Linked DNA regions of Homo sapiens. The protein of the gene in region 1 purifies or fractionates together with the protein of each later gene. This does not show direct contact. Each region holds a gene or a part of one and is shown in the gene's direction. Other genes may lie near its edges. The genes, in order: UBA6, HDLBP and CTPS1.

The links.
Region 2: the proteins of UBA6 (region 1) and HDLBP fractionate together in Homo sapiens (co-fractionation; 2 studies listed by BioGRID). This does not show direct contact.
Region 3: the proteins of UBA6 (region 1) and CTPS1 fractionate together in Homo sapiens (co-fractionation; 2 studies listed by BioGRID). This does not show direct contact.

What each region holds. Positions count from the first base shown.
Region 1 is NC_000004.12:67,628,053-67,635,158, reverse strand, and holds part of UBA6 (ubiquitin-like modifier-activating enzyme 6), read left to right. Parts: intron 1-640; coding exon 641-730; intron 731-836; coding exon 837-917; intron 918-1,685; coding exon 1,686-1,814; intron 1,815-3,250; coding exon 3,251-3,302; intron 3,303-3,387; coding exon 3,388-3,451; intron 3,452-4,623; coding exon 4,624-4,693; intron 4,694-6,016; coding exon 6,017-6,088; intron 6,089-7,106. UniProt on the Homo sapiens protein: Activates ubiquitin by first adenylating its C-terminal glycine residue with ATP, and thereafter linking this residue to the side chain of a cysteine residue in E1, yielding a ubiquitin-E1 thioester and free AMP.
Region 2 is NC_000002.12:241,235,670-241,242,775, reverse strand, and holds part of HDLBP (vigilin), read left to right. Parts: intron 1-97; coding exon 98-316; intron 317-2,467; exon of another isoform or gene 2,468-2,653; coding exon 2,654-2,875; exon of another isoform or gene 2,876-2,955; coding exon 2,956-3,174; exon of another isoform or gene 3,175-3,274; coding exon of another isoform or gene 3,275-3,385; intron 3,386-3,988; coding exon 3,989-4,127; intron 4,128-6,006; coding exon 6,007-6,161; intron 6,162-7,106. UniProt on the Homo sapiens protein: Appears to play a role in cell sterol metabolism. It may function to protect cells from over-accumulation of cholesterol.
Region 3 is NC_000001.11:40,975,161-40,982,708, forward strand, and holds the start of CTPS1 (CTP synthase 1), read left to right. Parts: upstream 1-4,535; 5' UTR 4,536-4,669; intron 4,670-4,869; exon of another isoform or gene 4,870-5,401; intron 5,402-5,431; exon of another isoform or gene 5,432-6,826; coding exon of another isoform or gene 6,827-6,834; intron 6,835-6,879; exon of another isoform or gene 6,880-6,951; intron 6,952-7,548. UniProt on the Homo sapiens protein: This enzyme is involved in the de novo synthesis of CTP, a precursor of DNA, RNA and phospholipids. Catalyzes the ATP-dependent amination of UTP to CTP with either L-glutamine or ammonia as a source of nitrogen.

The sequences.
Region 1 (7,106 bases):
TGAGACTAGAACTGTCAACAAAGACATAAAATTTTATTCACTTGCTGAGACAAAGTGAGTCATTTTAGATTAGGTAAACCAATAAACCTAGGCAAAATGTACTCTATAATAGAATGTGGATTTCTTCAATGGTACTTTATCCACAAAAAACGACTTAGGTATTTACCATTTATTTAATACATGCTTTCTGCAAGAAACCTCAAGCATTGAGGACATATTTCTGCTCCCAGATGTTTTTCTCCATGGAAAAACTCATGCTTTTCTGAGCACTATACTGGGTATTCCTGAATTACTTTTCAAAGCGGGGCAGTGTTATAAAACTTTAAATGTCACCTTGATTCATGAGGAAAAAAATGATTTATAGATGATGGTGTGTCATGAGTACTACATGGTGCTTTAAATGAGTACACAAATAATAAATAAGATTCATGTTTGGCATTACATAGCTATTAACAAATAGGTTAAATGTCAAAAGAATTAACTTCTCTTATTGCCTAAGAGAGAGAAGATATAAAAATGTCTGGTTGGATTTTATTTATTTTTGGATTTTTAATAGGCTTAAAGCTCAAAACTAGATTAAATCAATAAAAATTGGTCATTGCTTCCCCTTAAGTACCTGTTGTCATATTTTATAAATTAGCGGGATCCCCCAGAAGAGGAAATACCATTTTGTACTCTAAAATCCTTTCCAGCTGCTATTGAACATACCATACAGTGGGCAAGAGATAAGGTAAAAGTTCCTTTTTAAATTTATTTTCTTTGAAGTGAGAAAGAAGATATTTCTGACTTTAAACAGACTTCTATTTGTAATTTTTTTTTTCTTTTCTCTGTTACAGTTTGAAAGTTCCTTTTCCCACAAACCTTCATTGTTTAACAAATTTTGGCAAACCTATTCATCTGCAGAAGAAGTCTTACAGGTAAAAATCAGTAAATTTTAATACAAACTTAACACTTTGTGTCAGTGTAATCTTATTTTCAAGTCATCTACAAGTGATTTATTTTACCTCCATAAAGAGTGATTGTATATAAAAAATGAAATGATACATAAGGAATCTTGAAATTAGGTCACAAATTATCATTTTGGTTGTTTGAACTACATGGAATTGTCGATATTTGAGCATGTTCGACTCACAAAACAGCAATTCGTATGGTGCGAGCTAATAAAGATATGATAATTATGATAGAAGGGCTACAAATAATAAAAGGGCTTTTATTAAGCCCTTTGGAAAGAAAAAATTGAGGTAAGTTCTAGTTAAAATTTCATGAGGGAACAATAATCTCCAAGACTTATTACTCTTATAGTGAAGGCAACTTTAAAGATGTTTTCTCACTTTCTTTTAATCTTTTGCTAACAAGGCCCACTTTTTAGTATCAAATATTCATAGCACTTATAGTGAGTACATATATTATAGTACTAATAACTTACAGCTAGGAAAATATGAGGATAACTTGTAAGATAAGAAATCAGAGTTAAAATTTTGTATGCTATCTCTTACCATTCCCCTTCTCAAACAGAAAAGAAAAGAAAGGTTAAAGAAGAAGGAAGGGAAAAGGAGCTTGAGGTGAAAAAAGAAAAGCATAAAACACATGAGTTGACACTTCAAACTTAGGCTAACTTTTGGTGAGGGATGTGTATATGTTTGTAATTGGAAGTATGTTGATTTTTTTTTTCTCTCCCATTCTAGAAGATACAGAGTGGACACAGTTTAGAAGGCTGTTTTCAAGTTATAAAGTTACTTAGCAGAAGACCTAGAAATTGGTCCCAGTGTGTAGAATTAGCAAGATTAAAGTTTGAAAAATATTTTAACCATAAGGTAAGTATGCATTGTGAGACATTAAGAAAAGGTCTGATCTTGGCTTATTTAGTTATTAACAAATTAATTTCATTGACCTGAAATGTGTATTCTTTCTTTTGGCAAGCTTTTCAGAAATTAGTAGTAAGTTAAATGAGAACACATGCTAATCTAAAAGAAGTTTGTTCAGAATAGAAGAAGCAAGAAACTGAGAAAATAGGGACATTTAGTCAGAAATTTTGCTGAGATTTTGCCATTTCCACCCATATCTGATAATCACATTTTATGTCTGTTTCCCCATCTGTAAAATAGAAATAATAAATTTGTACCTAATACATAAGGTAGTGGTAAAGATAAAAGGAGGTAACACAAAGCATTTAGAACAGAGCCTGGCACATAAAAAATTACTAAATATTAGCTGTTATTCTTACCTCCAGTTAAATATAGTTGCTGGAATGTGTGTTGCCTTCTCTTTAGTCTTTCCCTCTCTTTAGGATCTTAAGTTCATCTTCCTTAGAAACAACTTTAAAAAAAAACAAAAAAACAGGGTTTCCCTATGTTTTCCAGTCTGGCCTGGAACTCCTGGGCTCAAGTGATCCCTGCCTCAGCCCTTAAGTAGCTGAGGCTGCATGTGCACGCCACCACACCCCACTTAAAAAATATTTCGTTTATACTTCTTCTTTTTACTTTCAACAGAGCTCTACTTCTTGGAAAAGTGGTCTGTACTACTCAATGTTACCACTTCTTTACCCAGTAAATTTGACTTCTTTGCTCATTACTCTTCAGATTGTTCTTAACATGGTTATCAATGACCCGTTTCAAAAATCTAAGGAACTCTTTAGTTCTTATCTTCTGTGCATTTTTTTTAAACTTTTTTTATAATGAAAAATATTCAGCCATAGAAATGTAGAGGAAATAGTATAATGAACCCTAATGTAATTGTCAATTACCTATCACCCAGGGTTAGCAGTTATCAATTCATAGATAAATCTTGTTTCATCACCATTCCCGTTCATTCTTACCTTCCCCCAGGTGATTTTGAAGCAAATCTCAAACATGTATCAATTTCAAAAATACAAAGTACTGTGTGTTTTTTCTGGTTTTGTTATTTAAGTACTAGCTCTTTAAAAAGAACAGAATGACATGTAAAATATGCCATTTATATAAAAAGGAGTGAAGTAATCTACATTTGTTTGCTGTAGATACCACCTCCCAATAAACCTACAAATAGTGATAGAAAATGATATTTGAATTTTTCATTTATGAGGGACATTGACAGGAGAATGGACAGATGGAATACAAGGGTGGTAGGGAGACTTCACTGTGTCTCTTTTAATGTGTTTTGATTTTTGAATCATGTGCATATATTTACTACACACATTTTTTAATTTTATTTTTTAATTTTTCCTCAGATAATATTAAGTAGTGGGTGTCTTTAATTCATTTTTTTTCTTTAGGCTCTTCAGCTTCTTCACTGTTTCCCTCTGGACATACGATTAAAAGATGGCAGTAAGTATAAATGTTGAGAATAAATTTTAATGACATTTATTACTGGCTACATACATTGAAAATGATATTTGTATCTTTTTGCCAGGTTTATTTTGGCAGTCACCAAAGAGGCCACCCTCTCCAATAAAATTTGATTTAAATGAGCCTTTGTAAGTATTTATATTTAGTTTTATGTATCCTTCATTATATATTTCTTTACTGTAAATTCCTTAACTGTACATTGCAGAGTGAAAACCTTAGGCTCTTTAATGTTAAATTATTTCATCCCTGTTCATTTAAGAGTTAACAAGTCATTCTGACCAAGAAAGCCAGCCACAACCCTTCCCACACAAATGTGAATCCATTCATTTACATGGTAAATAACCTCATTATTTATAATAAATATCTAAGGTGAAACCAAAATCACCTTTTTTACTTTATCCATAAATTAGTAAAATGACAATGTGTTTTTACATTTAATGAAATCAAATATAAGAATCTTCAGTTATATGGAGGAACAAATAATTACTACTGAATAACTCCCTAAATCTCAAATTATTTTCAGAGGAGTTGGTCTTTGTGTGAATACCTGGAAACACTATATTAGATACACATTAGATTCACACTTGTGTGTATATGTATATTTTTTCTATTTTTTTAATTTAGTTTTTATTCTTTGAAAGAGACAAGGTCTCACATATGTGGCCCAGCCTGGTCTTGAACTCCTAGGCTCAAGCAATCCTCGCACCTCAGCTTCCCAAGTAGCTGGGATTACAGGTGCATACCACCACACCCAACCTTATGTATATATATTTTTAAACACTTAGCTTGCATTCACTAACCTTCCTTTCAGCAGATAACTCTATGCTTAATTTTCTCATCTGGTGGTGGTTTTAGGCTTCCAGTCACCTTATGCTGGACTGCTTCTTCTATAAGACTTTCTTTTTTTGTTTTTAAATAAACACATTTACTTAGTTTGAACTTGATATATACTCATTAAGACCAAATGTATAATATTTCTTATGACTTAAAATGAATTATTGTTCACTGGTCTGAGTTTTCTGGTTCTGTCCACTCACTCCTCTTCCCAAGGTAGTCATGATCACTACCTGAATGTTAAGTGTTTTTGAGAATAACTGTTTGATGTTTTGTCTTTTATAACTTCTGTAGTGTTTTGGTGTAGACCAGAATATTTTTGTCTAACTTAAAAAAAAAAACTTGAAATAATAATTCTGTGGTTATATTTCTTCAAACTACATTTAAAGGCTATAGTTCATAATGAGTTAAATATCGTCTTTAAAACTGTACATTCAAATTTTGCTTTATTTTTTAATTTCAAAAGGCACCTCAGTTTCCTTCAGAATGCTGCAAAACTATATGCTACAGTATATTGTATTCCATTTGCAGAAGAGGTAAGATATTCTTTAAGCCTTAGCAAGTGATGCAAAACCAAATTAGAATTAGATGACTGATGCACTAATTGCATCAAAACATGTTTGTTTGTTATAAGAATCACTCTTTTTGATACAGAATTTTTATTGTATTTTTACCCATACTAACATAATGGAAGCTAAAAGCTCATTGCAGTATTGCTAAGTAGAAGTCGGATTTTTCCTTCTGAATTGAAGCAGTGAAACAGCATTATTTGTTAAAAGCAGTTAAACTTTGTTTTAAGAATATTTATAACCTGCTTAGCAGCTTCAGTTATCCTAGTTATTCTAAAAAGCCACAGCAAACCATTTCATCGCAATTTTGAAATACTGCGTAGAGATTTTCTTTGTTAACATTTGTTTGTTATTTTGTGATAATTTATGTGCTTTTCAGGAAATCTGAAAATGCTCCCTTATATTGACATTTCTTACTTTAGCATCATACTCATTCTCTTAAACATCATCTTCATTGACTAACATCTAAAGAGCCTCATACGGTTTTGAGAGGCATCTCTTTTCTTCACAAATGCATATTCTAGCTAAGTAAATTGCTGTACTTTTAGGTGGGCTAAATAGAGAAACATGAATCAGATCCCATAATTAACACTGGCTGTTTTGGATTCAGATAACAATATCTGTTTTAGATTAATCCTTTTTGGAATTCATACAAATAAACTGTAAATATTTGGTAAAAATAGTGGCATTCAGTCTGATATTCTTTTTGGGAAAATCAGTGGTAATTTAGTGGTGAGTGTGGTAATTGACCTCAAAAGCACTAAGTCTCAGCCTTTGCCAAGCAACTTCTCAATGACAAATGTAAATACAACCCATAGCTTTAAATTCATATAAGTTCATCTTTAACCATTTAAATATCTCCCTCCTTCTTAAGGTATGAATTCCATTTACTTATTTTACTTATTGAGTATAACTTACTTCAGGGAACTTTGTAAAACATTAAAAACATAAAACATAAAGCTAAGGGAATTAAAACTGACTGATCAAGTCACTCAGTTTTATATTTACAACCAGTCCTAAAAATGCCTTTTAAAAAATTTGCAGAAGGACTAAAATTTCAAGTTTGTTGACTAATAAGTACTTTTTTACCCCTTACCTTCTCCTCCCCCATAACCTTTATGGGGGGATATTTTTATAGAAATAAAGATAAATGTCTCAAATGGATGTCTACATATTCAGATAATGAAATATTCATATATTGTAATATGATTAAGGACCTTTTGTAGGATATTTTTAGCTTTAGAATTTAGAAGAATATGTTTGTTGGTAAAATTACTTTTTTAAAAACAGGACTTATCAGCAGATGCCCTCTTGAATATTCTTTCAGAAGTAAAGATTCAGGAATTCAAGCCTTCCAATAAGGTATGTTTAAAAAATCATTCATTCAGCAAATAGTTTGGGAATTTGGACTTGTACCAAGTCCCATTCTAAACCTGGAGAATATCACAATGAATGGTTCTTGCTCTTGCTCTTGTCAGTGCAACTTGAGTTTGAAGTAGATTTGTCAGAATCACAAACTGTTGATTAATACTAATTTTATTCTAGTGTGGAATTTTAAAAAAGATCAGTATAGACTTAGATTGTATGAGCTACTCAGTTAATATTTTTTTATGCCCACTATATCATTGTGGGTATTAAAAATTAGATATATTGGAGTTCTGTCAGTGAACAAGATACATAAAGATCCCCTGTTGTTATAGAGCTTACATGCCTTTGTGAGAAGATAGATAATAAAATACATACATGAATAACATAATAATACCTTCTGAAGGAATGTATAAAATACATTGGACCAATGTATTTTGGGCGGAGAGGGACTATAAACAAAAATGCTAATAAGTACATAATATTGCAGTGTGAGTGTAAGTGCTAAGAAGGAAAAATACAACAGGGAAAAGAAAGAGTGATGGAGCTGGTATAATTTTATATGGGATGGAAGTGAGGAAAACCTCTGATAACAGTAACATTTTAGCAGAAACCTGAAGGAAGTAAAGGAATAGTGAAAGAGCAATGTAGGCAGCAGAAATAAGTGCAGAGAAAGGCCTTGAAAAGCTTTTAAGGTCAGGACTCGTCTAGAAGAGAATATACAAGGGGAAGAGTCTTAAATGAGGAAATTACAGAGATAGTTGGGGCTATGATAAAGAAAGAATATTTTCTTAGTTGAAATAAGAAGCTAGCTTAGTAGCTCAGAGTGAAGGGGATAAGAAGATAAAGGAAGTAAGAGCAAAGAAAAGAAGGTATGAAATAATTGTCCAGTGAAGTGGAAGAGTCACTTAATTAAAAGATGTAGTAAAACGCAAGACAATACTGAAGATCCACTTAATGTTAATCTGCTTAATGTATCCTACTAAATGTGGCTGGAGAAAGGGTAATGATCTTT
Region 2 (7,106 bases), on another chromosome or scaffold:
CGTGTTCATCACCACCAAAGATGATAGTTTATCTTTTCCTCTGCCCTTTTTGCCACAAAAATGTGACTTCCTCCTCCTGCCCTGTGTTTGGTTTCAGGCCAACATAGCCGAGGTAGAGGTCTCCATCCCTGCCAAGCTGCACAACTCCCTCATTGGCACCAAGGGCCGTCTGATCCGCTCCATCATGGAGGAGTGCGGCGGGGTCCACATTCACTTTCCCGTGGAAGGTTCAGGAAGCGACACCGTTGTTATCAGGGGCCCTTCCTCGGATGTGGAGAAGGCCAAGAAGCAGCTCCTGCATCTGGCGGAGGAGAAGGTGAGCATGGGGAGGGAGCGTGACTCTTGGCAGGAAGCCTGGTCCTCAGTACAGTGTTCTCGCTTCTCACTGTGGAAACCCCTGAATGCCCTTCCTTTGTGGCGGGTCAGAAAACAGCTCTATAATGTACTGTTTATGCGTCTTTGTTTTTGCTGTTACTGGAGGGCCTTTCCAGGTCCAAACGCTCACATATGCAATATATAAAAGTTGGTCTTTGGCTTATTAGTTTTGGGGTGCTTTTGTTTTTTAAATATGATTTACAGTAAAATTGGCCATTCTTCAGGTATAGTTGAGTTTTAAGTAACATGCAGTCATGTGACCACAATCATCAAAATTCATTTTCCATCACCCCTAAAGATTGCCCATGGAATTGCTGTTGTCCTTGTGTCAAAACCCATCTGTGGGTATGTTTCCGGGCTCTTCTGGTGACACCAGGTTTATGGGAAGTCTGGAAATCAGTAGTGTGAGCCCTCTTAACTTTGGCTGTTCTACACCCCTTGCTGATCAGCCTGTCAATTTGTAGGAAAAAAGCACTTTCACGTTTTGATTGGGATTGTGTGAAATTTGAAGATGAGACTGGCGAGGATTGACAGCTCAGCAGTTTTGACTTTTGCAGGCATTTCTCCATTTTTTTTAGGTCTGTGATTCTTTATTGGTGTTTTATAATTTTTAGCACATTTTTATGTTCGACTTAACAGATCTAACTACTGTTACTCTTTTAGTGCTATTGTAAATGGCACTTTTTTTCCATTTCCAGTTGTTAGCACATGGAAGTGCCTGTGGTTTTTGTATGTTGACCTTCACGAGGCTGCTAAATAAAGCTCATGTATATTAGCGCCAGTCACTGTTTTGTGGATTTTTTTTTTTTTTTTTTTTTTTTTTTTTTTTTTTTTGAGACGGAGTCTTGCTCTGTCGCCCAGGCTGGAGTGTAGTGGCGCAATCTCGCCTCACTGCAAGCTCCGCCTCCTGGGTTCACGCCATTCTCCTGCCTCAGCCTCCCGAGTAGCTGGGACCACAGGCGCCCGACACCTCACCCAGCTAATTTTTTGTATTTTTAGTAGAGATGGGGTTTCACAGTGTTAGCTAGGATGGTCTCGATCTCCTGACCTCGTGATCCGCCCGCCTCGGCCTCCCAAAGTGCTGGGATTACAGGCGTGAGCCACTGCGCCCGGCCCACTGTTTTGTGGATCCTTATTTTATATGTCACAATCACGTGGTCTGTGGACAGTTACATTTCTCTCTAATCTGGAGCCTTGTATTTCTTGTCTTTTTTGTTGTTGTTATTAGATTGATGTTTTTGTCTTTGTGTTTAACCAGCCTTGCGTTTCTGGGGTAATCCCTGCTTGGTTTGGTAGGTTGTCTTTGGCCATATTGCTAGATTGCATTTGCCTAATTGATTGCCTAATGTTTGACTAATGCTGCTATTTGTGGATGTCTTTGAAAAGTAGCAGAGTCTCTAGGTGGTATTTGGTGAAACCTGCACTTAAAAGGTAGCAAAGTTGTTATTTAATATTTTTGTGCTAGCATGTTTTTCTTTGGTATTTTTGCTTGCGGGCCAGATCTTGGGTCCGGAGAAAGGCAAGAGCTCCCCGTGTGGACCTGAGTCCCGTGGAGCAGCGCCCTTCTCGGGGCCCCTGCGTGGGTCTGCCAGAAGCACTGGTGTCCACAAGCAGTGTCCGGGGCCTTTCCAGGACCCTCGTTTTCTTACTGCCACACAAGGGCGTCGCACTACACGAGGCCTCTGAGGACCGGTCTCTAACTGTAGCCTTGGTTGGCTTGTGTCCCTCTGAGCTTGAGCTTGAGCCTGGGGAGTGGCTGGTTTTGTGGAGGCTGATCTGTAGCACTCGTGGGAAGAAAGGGAGCCTGGCCCAGATTTGTGTGTGCTTGGTCTGGAAGCAGGTAGAAGAGTGGGAGCATGGTGCACACCTCTTGGGCAGCTTGCTTCCTGCTCTGCTGGGCACACCCCACGCTCCCCAGGACGTGCACTCCGCCAACATATCGTCCGGCGCGTTGCTCCCACCTCCCCCTGTGCAGATCAAAAATGGCTTGGAGAAGTTTGGTCAGTGCTTGTAAGTGGCAGGACCAGGGTTCTAAGCCTGTGTGTTCATCCCACCAGCATCTGGTTGTTGTGGAAGAGAAGTAGGTGTGCAGTCTGGGTATTCATCTGTTTATTCAGTGAGGTGTGCTAGCCCCATTTTGGGGGTATTGGTGCAACATCAGGACACTGGTGACAATGTAAGGGGAGCCCGAGCTTGCTGTCCTACAGACCCTCTTGTCTTCCTCACTGTGGTCCAGGCACGTGGTGTCAGGCTAACACAGTGGGATTGGTTTCTGCAGCAAACCAAGAGTTTCACTGTTGACATCCGCGCCAAGCCAGAATACCACAAATTCCTCATCGGCAAGGGGGGCGGCAAAATTCGCAAGGTGCGCGACAGCACTGGAGCACGTGTCATCTTCCCTGCGGCTGAGGACAAGGACCAGGACCTGATCACCATCATTGGAAAGGAGGACGCCGTCCGAGAGGCACAGAAGGAGCTGGAGGCCTTGATCCAAAACCTGGTAGGGAGCGGGCCTCGGCGGCCGACTCTGCTGGGGCCGTGATGGGGTGGCTTATCTTCCATCTCTTCTTAACACTGCAGGATAATGTGGTGGAAGACTCCATGCTGGTGGACCCCAAGCACCACCGCCACTTCGTCATCCGCAGAGGCCAGGTCTTGCGGGAGATTGCTGAAGAGTATGGCGGGGTGATGGTCAGCTTCCCACGCTCTGGCACACAGAGCGACAAAGTCACCCTCAAGGGCGCCAAGGACTGTGTGGAGGCAGCCAAGAAACGCATTCAGGAGATCATTGAGGACCTGGTAGGCACTTGGGTGCTCGGGGAGGGGTTCTCACCCCCCAGTGGCCACTCACCGAAGCCGTGTATGAGTGTTCGCTCCACCCTGTAGGGAGGTGACTCCCTCATACAGCCCTGGAAGGCTTCAGAAGGGGCTTTCTGGTGCTCGCTCTTCTTTCCTCAGCCTGTCTGGCCTCCTTCCTGATAGTTGGTGAGAATTCTGCCTGCGAGAAGCACTTAAAAAAAAAAAGAGAGAGAGAAGGAGAAGAGGAGAGGGGAGAGAGAGAGAGGAAAGAAAGCAAGAGAAAGAAAGAAAATGCATTCTGTATAAGGGATCAGGAAAAATGAAAATGCAGTCTAAGGGGTCAGCTCTCTTCTCCCCTCTGTGAAGGAAAGAAAATCGATTTGAGGGCATCCACGTGAATCCATGGGAAGTCATGAGAAGACGTGGTCTTTAGAAGCAGTCTTTAGAGAGTGTCCCCTCCAGGCCACTCCCCTGCCAGGGCCTTGGATTCCCTTTCCCTAATAATCAAGTCTGATGCCTCCTCATGGAGTCAGAGGCTACCCCAGGAGGTCCCACTCCTTTGGCTGAATTGGCCACCCTCCAGGGATGGCACCTGGCCTTCTGGGACACATTTCAGAGGAGGCCCACCCCCTTAGACCTGTCCTGCTACCTCCCTCCTCCCTGCGCCTGGAGCCCTGGACTCGGGAGAAGGGGAGCATCTGTGCCAAGTGGCTGTAGAGGACAGGGAGGAAGGTGGTGTGAAGAGTGCTGTAAAACTTGCCCTAAGGAATTTAATCTTTGCTCTTTTCTTTTTTCTTTGTGTACCTCCCTCCAGGAAGCTCAGGTGACATTAGAATGTGCTATACCCCAGAAATTCCATCGATCTGTCATGGGCCCCAAAGGTTCCAGAATCCAGCAGATTACTCGGGATTTCAGTGTTCAAATTAAATTCCCAGACAGAGAGGAGAACGCAGGTGGGTCCCCCATTAGCCCTGCTCTGCTTGTTAATAGTGGCGCCTCCCATGTGAGAGGCGGGGCTGTCGCACATACTGGTGAGGCTCTTTCCTGTCTCTGCTGGAAAACCATCTATGTATTCTGGGGGCTTCCAGAGGTTCAGGGTCACTCCCTGGCCTTTAAAAGATGGACCACGTCAGTTACTGACAGAGTGACCAGGTGACCTTCATAGGTCCTAGAGACACACAAGGTAGCCAGTCCCAAGGCGATGAGGAGCGTGCAGCCTCATCCTCGGGTGTCCCGAGTTCAGTCCCAGTGATTCTCATGACATCGTTTGGATCGCATGAGCCCCGTCGTAGAGCTTCCTCCTCCACATCTCCCATCACTGTGGGGTGTCCCCTGTGAGGCAGGCAGCTGCAGCCTCTGGCTGGCCAGAGGGCACCATCCAAGTGGCCGGCAGTTCTAGGAGAGCATTCAGTTCCCCGTACCATGCTTGCCCCCAGCTCTGCTCATGCACCTGGTGGTGGGGAGGCGACCTGTGGGATGCGGGTCGGTTGCCTCTCTCTCACTTGCTCTGCATTTGTGAAACAAAAGGTATGCCCTCCACTCTGTGTTATCAGATGCCCGCCCTCCACTCTGTGTTATCAGTCTTGGTTGAGCTGTTTGGGCGGCAGGTGGCCCTGCAGCCTGCTGAGTGCACATAGTGTCATCTCTCTGGGCATCCAGGAAGCATGTCACACACAGCCATTCAAGCCCCTTTGTTTTCCTGAGAATACAGGGTGTTTTGAGTAGGAAACTAATAAACTCATACTGCACTCTGTCTATGTTTTACACTTCAGTGGTTATTTAAAACTTTGATTTTGATAGAATTTCACAGAATAGTATAAAGACACATCCTGTGGCACCAGTTTCTTTTCTCAACTTCTCCCCTTTTACACACGTTTTTTTTCTGAATGTCATTTTTAGACATGTCCCTTTATTCATGGTGGGTATTTTCTTAGAACAAGGACATTCTCTTACATAATTCTAGCACATTTATCGGAATCGGATTTAACATTATATAACAGTAGTATCTAATATGTTGTCGGTATTCAAATTTGCCAGTTTTTCTCCTTCAGAAACACCTACTTCCCCATCCTAGGATCACCCTTGATTTCAGGCAGGCGTCTGTCTGGTCTCCTGCTCATTTATTTACATCACACACCTCCTGGGTTCTGTCTTAGTGATAATTATTGTTGTGTCTGTTTTGTGACACTTATTGTTGTGGTGTCTATTTTGGTACACACGCGGTGTCCCAGTGTGGCCTGTAGGAGCCCCTCCAGCTGTCTTCTGTGTCCTGTTCACACGCCTCTTCACTTCTGGGGCTCTCGCTTTCTGGCATAAGGAGCTGGCACAGGTTTACCTTGGCCTTGCCCTTTCTGTCTCCCCTAGACCTCTCACCCCCCTTCCCACTGCCTCTCCTGGGTGGGGCTGCGTGCTGGCCGCCTTCCCTGATGAGCCCTGCCTCACAGTCAAGCCTCACTTGTGCAGTGGGTCTGCCCTGTGTTCCTCCCATGAACTAACTCATCTGATCTCACTGAAGCCTCTGCTGTAGTTAGTTGCTGTTAGCTTCATCTTCAAGGTGAAGAAGGGAGACACAGAGCTCACGGCCTCCCGGCAAAGCCTTCATTGCCGCCCCCCCCCCCCCCCCCAAGGTCTGGGAGCCCTCTTTGAGGCTGCTGTGGGGACGTCCTATCTGCTCTCCCTGACCAGACCAAGACCTCCTGAAGGACAGGAGTGGTTTTCCCTCCCTTTTACCACCCAGCACCCAGCAGGTGCCTCACAGACATATGCATTCTGAACAAGGTGTGGGGTCTCTTCCAGCAGCTGTCAGCTGTCCCTTTTCCCCTTTCTCTCTAGTTCACAGTACAGAGCCAGTTGTCCAGGAGAATGGGGACGAAGCTGGGGAGGGGAGAGAGGCTAAAGATTGTGACCCCGGCTCTCCAAGGAGGTGTGACATCATCATCATCTCTGGCCGGAAAGAAAAGTGTGAGGCTGCCAAGGAAGCTCTGGAGGTATGTGTCCATGTGCCCCCCTCCACCCCCCGCCAAGGCCCAGTCAGCAGGCACCTGGGGAGACGCGTGGCCTGGATGGGATGGACGGTTGCCCAAGCGGCAGTGGCAGTGGAGGTAGCCCTCTTGCTCCTACCGTGTGCGCACGGGCTGTGCTTCTCGGCTGGACACAGAGTTTGGGGAGGCCACTTCCCTTCACCAAGGCTCGGGGTTCTATAGCCCCTTTCTGGGACAGCTGCATGGGATCCGGCCTCTCAGGCCCACGGTGGGTGCGGGGGCTGTGGAAGGGTCTCAGCTGCAGGGGGATGAATGTGACCTCCAGTTGCAACGTCTCCCCCCGCGTGAGTGGGGTTATCAGGCCTAGCTCACCTTGTGTGCAGTCAGTGTCGAGTGCCACCTGCGTACTGGATGCTGCTCTCAGTGCTGCGGTGCCACAGCACACAAAAATAGTTCTCACGTTGCCGTGGAGAGACAAGCAGTCAACGCAGATATATCCTGTGGCAAGTGATGGTAAATGCTGTGGCAAGAAAGCAGGTTCTGGAGGTGAAGGGCGGTGGGGGAGACAGGGCAGGGAAGGTGAGCAGCGGTCTGAGAGTCCCTTGTGGCACCTCGTGGGCATTAGCCAAAGCCGTCCTGATCCCAAGGGACAGGGCAGGGAAGGTGAGTAGTGGTCCGAGAGTCCCTTGTGGCACCTCATGGGCATCGGTCAAAGCCGTCATGACCCCGAGGATGTGCCAGGAGTCAGGGCCTCTCCTCCTACGTGGGCCTGAAGGGGCTGCTGTAATTCAGGAGGGTAGGCTTGGGATGAAGGGTCTGGAATTTCTGTCTGCCAGCATTAGCCTAATGCAAATCTTTTCCTATTCTTTTCTATTGAGTTAAAGGTCCTGGTGGCATTGTCGGGTGGGGCACATTGCTGTTGTCATAGGGCTGTTTGCCTTGTGTTTCGTG
Region 3 (7,548 bases), on another chromosome or scaffold:
CTGTGATAAACGCCTCAGAGGAAGCACTGGGTGTGCCACGGAATGTGCGGGAGGCACCCTGTCTTAGCCTGGGTTCCCTAGGAAGAAAGCCGGAGGTAGGTTCTTGAGTCAGCGAGTGACTGAGGAATAACCTCAGGTGAAGACTGTGAGGGAGCGAGGGGAGCATGGGGCGGGGAAAAAGTGAGACAAAGATATGTGTTTAGCTCAGGAGTTGGCACATTTTGGCCTTCAGACCCAAGCTCTATTTCTGTAAAAGAGTATTTTGTGAACACAGCTATAGTTCTATTGAAATAAGTCACATTCATTTAATCGATATATTATCTATGGCTACTTTTGCACTATGAAGGCAGAGTTGAGTGATTGCAAGAGACCATATGGCCCACAAAGCCTAAAATACAGACTGGTTCTTTTCAGGAAGTTTGCCTCAGCCTGATCCCACGGGGAGCTCTAGAGCACCAATGGGATCATAGAGTTGGCCCACGTGTAGGCGAGGCGCCTGGCTCACCTCAGGACCTGGGCTTGGAAGAGAACTTGGGGTTCAGGACACATCCAGCCTGGGAACATCAATTTGGGAGTAGTCAGAATAAGGATTTTTTTTGTTTGTTTTGTTTTTTAGACGGAGTCTTGTTCTGTTGTCCAGGCTGGAGTGCAATGGTGCAATCTCAGCTCACTACAACCTCCGCCTCCAGGGTTCAAGTGATTCTCCTGCCTCAGCCTCCCGAGTAGCTGGGATTACAGGCCTGCGCCACCACACCCAGCTAATTTTTGTATTTTTAGTAGACGGGATTTCACCATGTTGGCCAGGCTGGTCTTGAACTCCTGACATTGTGATCCGCCCACCTCGGCCTCCTAAAGTGCTGAGATTACAGACGTGAGCCACTGCGTCTGGGCCAGATGGTTTTAATGACTAGATAATGACTTTAGAGAGAAGGGATCCTAGAACTGAGGCTTGGGGCAATGTTTATAGTTCAGGATAGAGGAAAAGGAAGAGGATCTAGGTAGGGAGATCTAGAAGGAGAAACCTGTGAAATAGGAAAAAATGAACAGCAAGTGGTTTCCTAGAAGCCAAGTAAAGGACACCCACCTTTTAAGGAGGAAATGATCAGCTGTGACAAATGCTCTTAGGGAAGTGGTCAGTTTGGGGGCAGCTCTGGGGCTGTATAGCTGCACCTAGGAGCCCAAAAGGAGACTGGGCCTATGGTGGGGGAGAGAAGCAGCCCAAATATGTAAATACATACACATGCGCACGTGCACACACACATATGCATTCATGCCATGCACATACAGCCACACTGTTGTCTATTTTTTTTTTTTTTTGAGACGGAGTCTCGCTCGTCGCCCAGGCTGAAGTGCAGTGGTGCAATCTTGGCTCACTGCAACCTCCGCCTCCCAGGTTCAAGTGATTCTCCTGCCTCAGCCTCCTGAGTAGCTGGGACTACAGGCGCCTGCCACCACGTCTGGCTAAGTTTTGTATTTTTAGTAGAGACGGGGTTTCACCATATTTGCAAACTGGTCTCGAACTCCTGACCTTGTGATCCACCCATCTCAGGCTCCCGAAGTGCTGGGATTACAGGCATGAGCCACTGCGCCCAGCCCACTGTTGTCTTTATTTGGGACTTACGGACATTAGAGATTGGAGTCTAGGCTGATGTACAAAGAAGAGGTCTGAGAACATGGAGGTTAATTTTTGACGAGATCAGTTTCAGTGAAATTATATGAGCAAAATATCCAGATTGGAATGAGTTCAAGAGAGGGAAGAAATTGAGACAGCAAAGTACAAACAACATTTTTTAGGAGTTGTGCTGAAAAGTGAAACAGAAATGGAGGGGGAGCTAGAGAATGGCATAGAGTCAGGAGAGGGGTTTTAAGATGGAACAAATTGCAGCATGTTTGCATCACGGTAGTGGAAAAGATCTACTAGACAGGGAAAGACTGATGACGCAGGAAGGGACATTCTACTAGACATTCTTGAGTTGATGAAAGGATATGGCACTTGCATACTAGACATTCTTTGAGTTGACAAATGGATATGGCACTTGGAGCAAAGAGGAGGTTGACCTCTGGGAGTGTGGGCAGTTTGTCCACAGTAACAGGAGACAACGCAGAGCTTGTGCGCAGATAAAAGTGGTTGGTGGATATGAAAAATCTACTGATGGCTTCTATTTTCTCGTGAAATGGGAAGCAAGACCACCAGCTGAGGAGAATATGGGGGAGGAGATGGAAGAGCTTTGAGGAAGAAGACAATGTCAAGTGGTCATTCAGAGGAGTGGTTGGGTGAATGGCTCATTTTTCCATCTCCCATAGCATCTTCATTACCTCAGCAAGTATGTTCTCAGCATCTGTTATGTTCCAGGCACTTTGATAAACATCAAATGCTTCTTGAAAGAAGATGTGGCTGTAGAGTACCTTCAAAGACAACCCAAACTTTTTTTTTTTTTTTTTGAGATAGAGTCTCACTCTGCCCAGGCTGGAGTGCAGTGGTGGGATCCTAGCTCCCATTGGCCTTGAATTCCTGGGTTCAAGCATTCCTCCAGCCTCAGGCTCTGGAGTAGCCAGGACTACAGATGCGTGCCACCATGCTCAGCTAATTTTTGTATTTTTTGTAGAGATGGGGTCTCACTATATTGCCTAGGCTGGTCTTGAACTCCTGGACTCAAGAAATCCTCCCACCCTGTGTCAGCCTCCCAAAGTGTCAGGATCACAAGTGTGAGCCACTATGCCTGGCATTCCAAACATTTTTTAGATTTGGAGCTGAATGCAGCATGGGCAGGTTGTCAGGGTTGAAGCACTGGTGATCCAGATCTGGAAGGAGCCAGAAGCCTCTAAAAGAGGCCACTGCAGGAGCCTCCTGACCTGGTTTCTGGGAATCCATCTGCTTCAATGATTTTCCTAAAACACAAATCTGATCCCATCACATCTTTTTTTTTAAAACTCCTTCAGTGAAGATAGTTAAGAACTTGTGGCAGACTGCTTCTAGAGAACAAAACAGGAACACTGGGGTACAGAAATAAGAGATTTACTTTTCATGGATACCCTTGTGTAGTGTTTGGGGAAAAATTATAACCATGTACATATATTCACTATTCAAAGGAAGGTCAAAAGCCTCTCAAAAGTTTCTACAGCTTTCCACTATCCCTAGGAGAAAGAGAAGCCTTTACTTGGTCTATAATGCTCTTCACCGTATGGCCCTACCCAACTCTTCAACCTAATCTCATGTTAATCTCGCTTCCTGTGGCCCTTGTGGACTTGGCTAGACTGGCCTTCCAATTCAGCTGTGCCGGCCTCTTTGGGCTTGTACACAGGCTTTTCCTTCTGCCTCACTTTTAAAAAAAAATTATTATTACTATTTTTATTTTATTTATTTATTCTTTGAGAAGGAGTCTCGCTCTGTCGCCCAGGCTGGAATGCAGTGGTGCAATCTTGGCTCACTGCAACCTCCACCTCCCAGGTTCAAGCTATTCTCCTGCCTCAGCCTCCTGAGTAGCTGGGACTACAGGCACCCACCACCACGCCCAGCTAATTTTTGTATTTTTAGTAGAGACGGGGTTTCACCATATTGGCGAGGCTGGTCTTGAACTCCTGACCTTGTGATCCGCCTGCCTCGGCCTCCCAAAATGTTGGGATTACAGGTGTGAGCCACTGCGCCCGGCCTACTATTATTATTTTTATAAGAAACGGGGTCTCGCTATGTTACCCAAGTTGGTCTCGAACTGTTGGGCTCAAGCATGTCTCACTTTCTTATCCCCGCCTCTCCCTTTCCCATCTTTGCCGTCTACTTAGGTCTCTGCTTCAAAGTTACTTTTTCAGGGCGGGCTTCCCGCCTGAATTCCCAATCACCACCGGACTTGGGTCAGTCCCCGCGCTGGGCACTCACTGCCCCGGCACCAGCATCTCTGCAGCAAGCACCCATAACAACCATAAAGTGTAATGAGCTGCTCAGTGTGCCTCCCTACATCGTTAGTCCGAGGAGAGGGTCCCTCGGTGCCCAGCACAGTGCGTGGCACAGTCGGTGCTCAGGGAGCGATAGCTAGATGAAACCGTACTTTTCGGGATCCTAGTCCATCCAAAGCAGCCGCCTTCGGGGCAGGTGTGGGGAGGAGGGAGGCCGACGAGGAGCCAACGCCGCGCGACCCTCCGCACTTCCGTCTTGGAGGCCAGGGTGGCGCTGCCGCCGTCCCTCGCCCGGAGGCAGAGATGCGCTGGCGCATCACCGCCAGGAGCCCACAGTGAAAGACCATCGGATGGAAGGCGACGCCCAGAACTCCAGGAGACCGCTGTGGGAGGACGCGAGGCCAGGTGACGAATAGGCCAGGCGTGAGTTCCCAAACAGCCTCCTCCCCTTCAAGAGAGTAAGCTTGGGCCACAGGCTGGGACGGAAGCAGAGGGGCAGACACGCCACCACCCGCCCGGCCTCGAACCTACGGCGGCACAGTTCAGCGGAGGCGGCCCAGCGGTCCTGTCCCGCGCCTGCGCACTCCAGGCCCCGCCCCGCCCCGCGCCCTCCAGGCCCGGCCCGCCCTCCAACCTCTGCGTGCGCACAGCCTAGAGCCCGCCTCCGTGAAAGACTGCCGGGCGCATGCGGTCGGGGTTGTTCACTGGCTGTCCGGGGCTCCGCGCGCGTCGCCGGCCCAGCTCTGTCGCTGACGGGAGGATCTGAAGCCGGCCGCAGGTAGGCTGACTCCAGGGATCCCGGGGGGGATCTGTTCTCCCGCGCAGGAGTCAGCGGCGCGAGCTGAGCCCGGCGCCGAATAGCCCCGCCGCCGCGGTGACGGACGTCGCTCCTACCAATCAGGGGCGAGGTGACTCGGCGTCCTGCCCAATGGGCTGTGTGCCTAACGGGAGTGGGGCGGGCGCCCCGGCCGGCGAGCTGCCGGCTCCCGCGCGCGGGCCTCGTGGCCGGGCGGCGCTGGGGAGAGGGGCCAAGCGGGGCGCGGGGCGGCTTCAGAGGCTGCGGGGCCTGCGCTGCCGCGCTGGGCCGCGCCGAATCAGCTCGGCCGGGCTCGTCGGACGGAGAAGGCCGTAGGGGAGTGGAGCGGCGCCCCCCCCCACACCCTCCGCCCTTGCTCTTCGTCTGCGAGGAAGCCCGGCAGTCGCCCATCCATTCAAGCAGTGCGGGCCTCGGGCCTCCGGCCTCGGCGCGGGCTCAGCCGCCCGGGGCTGGGCGCGGCAGCTCCGCGCCGTAGGACGAGGGGGCCTGCGAACTCGCCGGCCCTGGGCCCCGCGGCTGGCCTTTGGGCCTCACGGCTTCCTCCCTTCCCGGCGGCCGGGGGTCGGGGCGCTGGCGGTGTATAGAGCTCACCACGTTTGCGTGGCGCCCTTCCGTCCACGCTCGTTACAGTTTCGAATCCTCAGCGGCCCTGTGACGCGGGCGGCGCAGAGATTCTCACCCCCATTCCCCTAGGTGAGAACCCGCGTTGCAGGCAGCTCAAGTGACATGATTGAGGTCTGCACACTAGTGATGGGGGCTGGCACTTCATCTCATAACATTGAAAGAAAAAGCATTTCCCCCCTCAGTCTTTGTTGAATTTCTCTGATGCGTCTTGATTTACGTTACTTCTGTGCCGGAAAACCTTCTTGCGCCTTCCGTCACCTTCAGGATTAAGTTCAGATTGGGCATGCCAGTTTGCACATGATCTGGCCCTTGCCTACCTTTCCAGTTTATCTTCCACTGTATATCCCTGCTTCCCCGCCTTCCCCCTCACGGCCTTACCTCTGTTCTCTGTAGCTGCCCTGCACCTGCCTGTTCACCCTGTTCCCTTTCCTGTGCTCTGAGTCGTGCAGTCAGTCCTTCAAGGCCCATTGCAAGTCATATCTACAAAACAGGAGCCGCCTGGATCCGCCCACTACCCCCAGGACTTGTCTCACCTTCCTCTGATGGCCATGGTACTGAAAGCGTCTGCTCTCATCGTCCCCCTTTATAGTCTAAACATGTTTTCTGTCTGCTTCCACCGTCACTGAATTACTCATTTATTTGTTAATGTTTCATCTCTCCAACTGGACTGCCAGAAAGTTGAGATATGGGCCCAAATCTGATTAATGTTTGCAGTCCCCAAGCACAGTAGCTGTCATGTAAGTCAGTAGCCCATAAGGATGAATGAATGAGCCTCCCGCCTGATCTTTATGTACACTGGCATATGTATTGCCAGGCACTGAGACTGCAAGAATCTAAAGAGAGAAACTAAAGAACGTAAAGAGAGATGTTAAACTCTTAGAGTAAAATTGGGACAAATCAAATGTAATTGGATGAGATGAATCTTTTGTAGAAGTAACTCACTCGGTGGCAGAGGAATTTCTAGGATCATCCAAAACTTAGGGAGACCAGGGTATAGTCTCAGTAAGGTATATGTCTGGTTAGAACATATCTAAAATGTACCTAAGACTGATTTTCATGTGTCAATAAGGAACTGTAAAGTGAGAGACTTAGGGTCAGATAAGCTTGGAGACACCGCATACTGTATAGCAGTGATCACAGTGCGAGTTTACTTGCTAAACACTCCCAGGATTCTTGCGTTAAATGACTTGGTTTAATCAGCGTTTCTCTGATTTATATCCATAACACCCTTTTTGAGAATCCCATGTGCATTTTGTTGAAACCAGGGAGCATGCTTTTGGAAATGCTGCAGCAGAGGATGCAAAGAGCCTTTGGAGCGGGGAAGACTTCTGAGCATTCTTCCTTCCCTGCCAAGTGTGTTCTTTCTTGCTCTGGGGAGGGGGTGGGGCGGGGGAATGCTTCGAGCACAACTCCTTAGTTTTCTTGTTCCTTAGTTTATTTTTATCATAATTTGGCTTCACATGGAACGTTCCTGAGGAGGAAAATGTCCTGACCATGCCAAAGTAAGCATTTTCTGCTACTTTCTAATTGTGTTTTTCATTTTGGTCACATTTGGGTTTGCTGACCAAATGGACGATCCTGGACCTCTGAAGCTGGGGACCAGTGATAAATCCTCCGTGGTGAGCCTGTCACGGTCTCCTCACCTCTTGTCGATGCTGTTTTCACCTGCATCTTGACTCTGCTGCCCTTATATCTTATTTCTCCTTTCCCTGCCACCGTGGCACTGCTTTTTGGATTTAATCTCATCTCCCCTCTCTTTGAGTCCTCTGCCCGTCATGTGCTTCAGACTGGTTTCTTATCTGATGTCCCTCTCCCCCAGTATTTACAGTCTCTCTTCATTGCATGCCTGGGAGAGATTTCTGACAAGGAGCAAGTTGTTGTTAAATTATAGAAGAGAACTACTTTTTCTTTTTTTTTGAGGTAGTCTTATTCTGTCGCGCACGCTGGAGTGCAGTGGCATGATCCCAGCTCACTGCAACCTCTGTCTCCTGGGTTCAAGCGATTCTCCTGCCTCAGTCTCCTGAGTAACTGGGACTACAGGCGTGCGCCATCACAGCCGGCTAATTTTTGTATTTTTAGTAGAGATGCGGTTTCCCCATATTGGCCAGGCTGGTCTCGAACTCCTGACCTCAAGTGATCCTCCTGGCTCTGCCTCCCAAAGTGCTGGGATTACAGGCATGAGCCACCATGCCCAGCCAGAGAACTACTTTTAATTA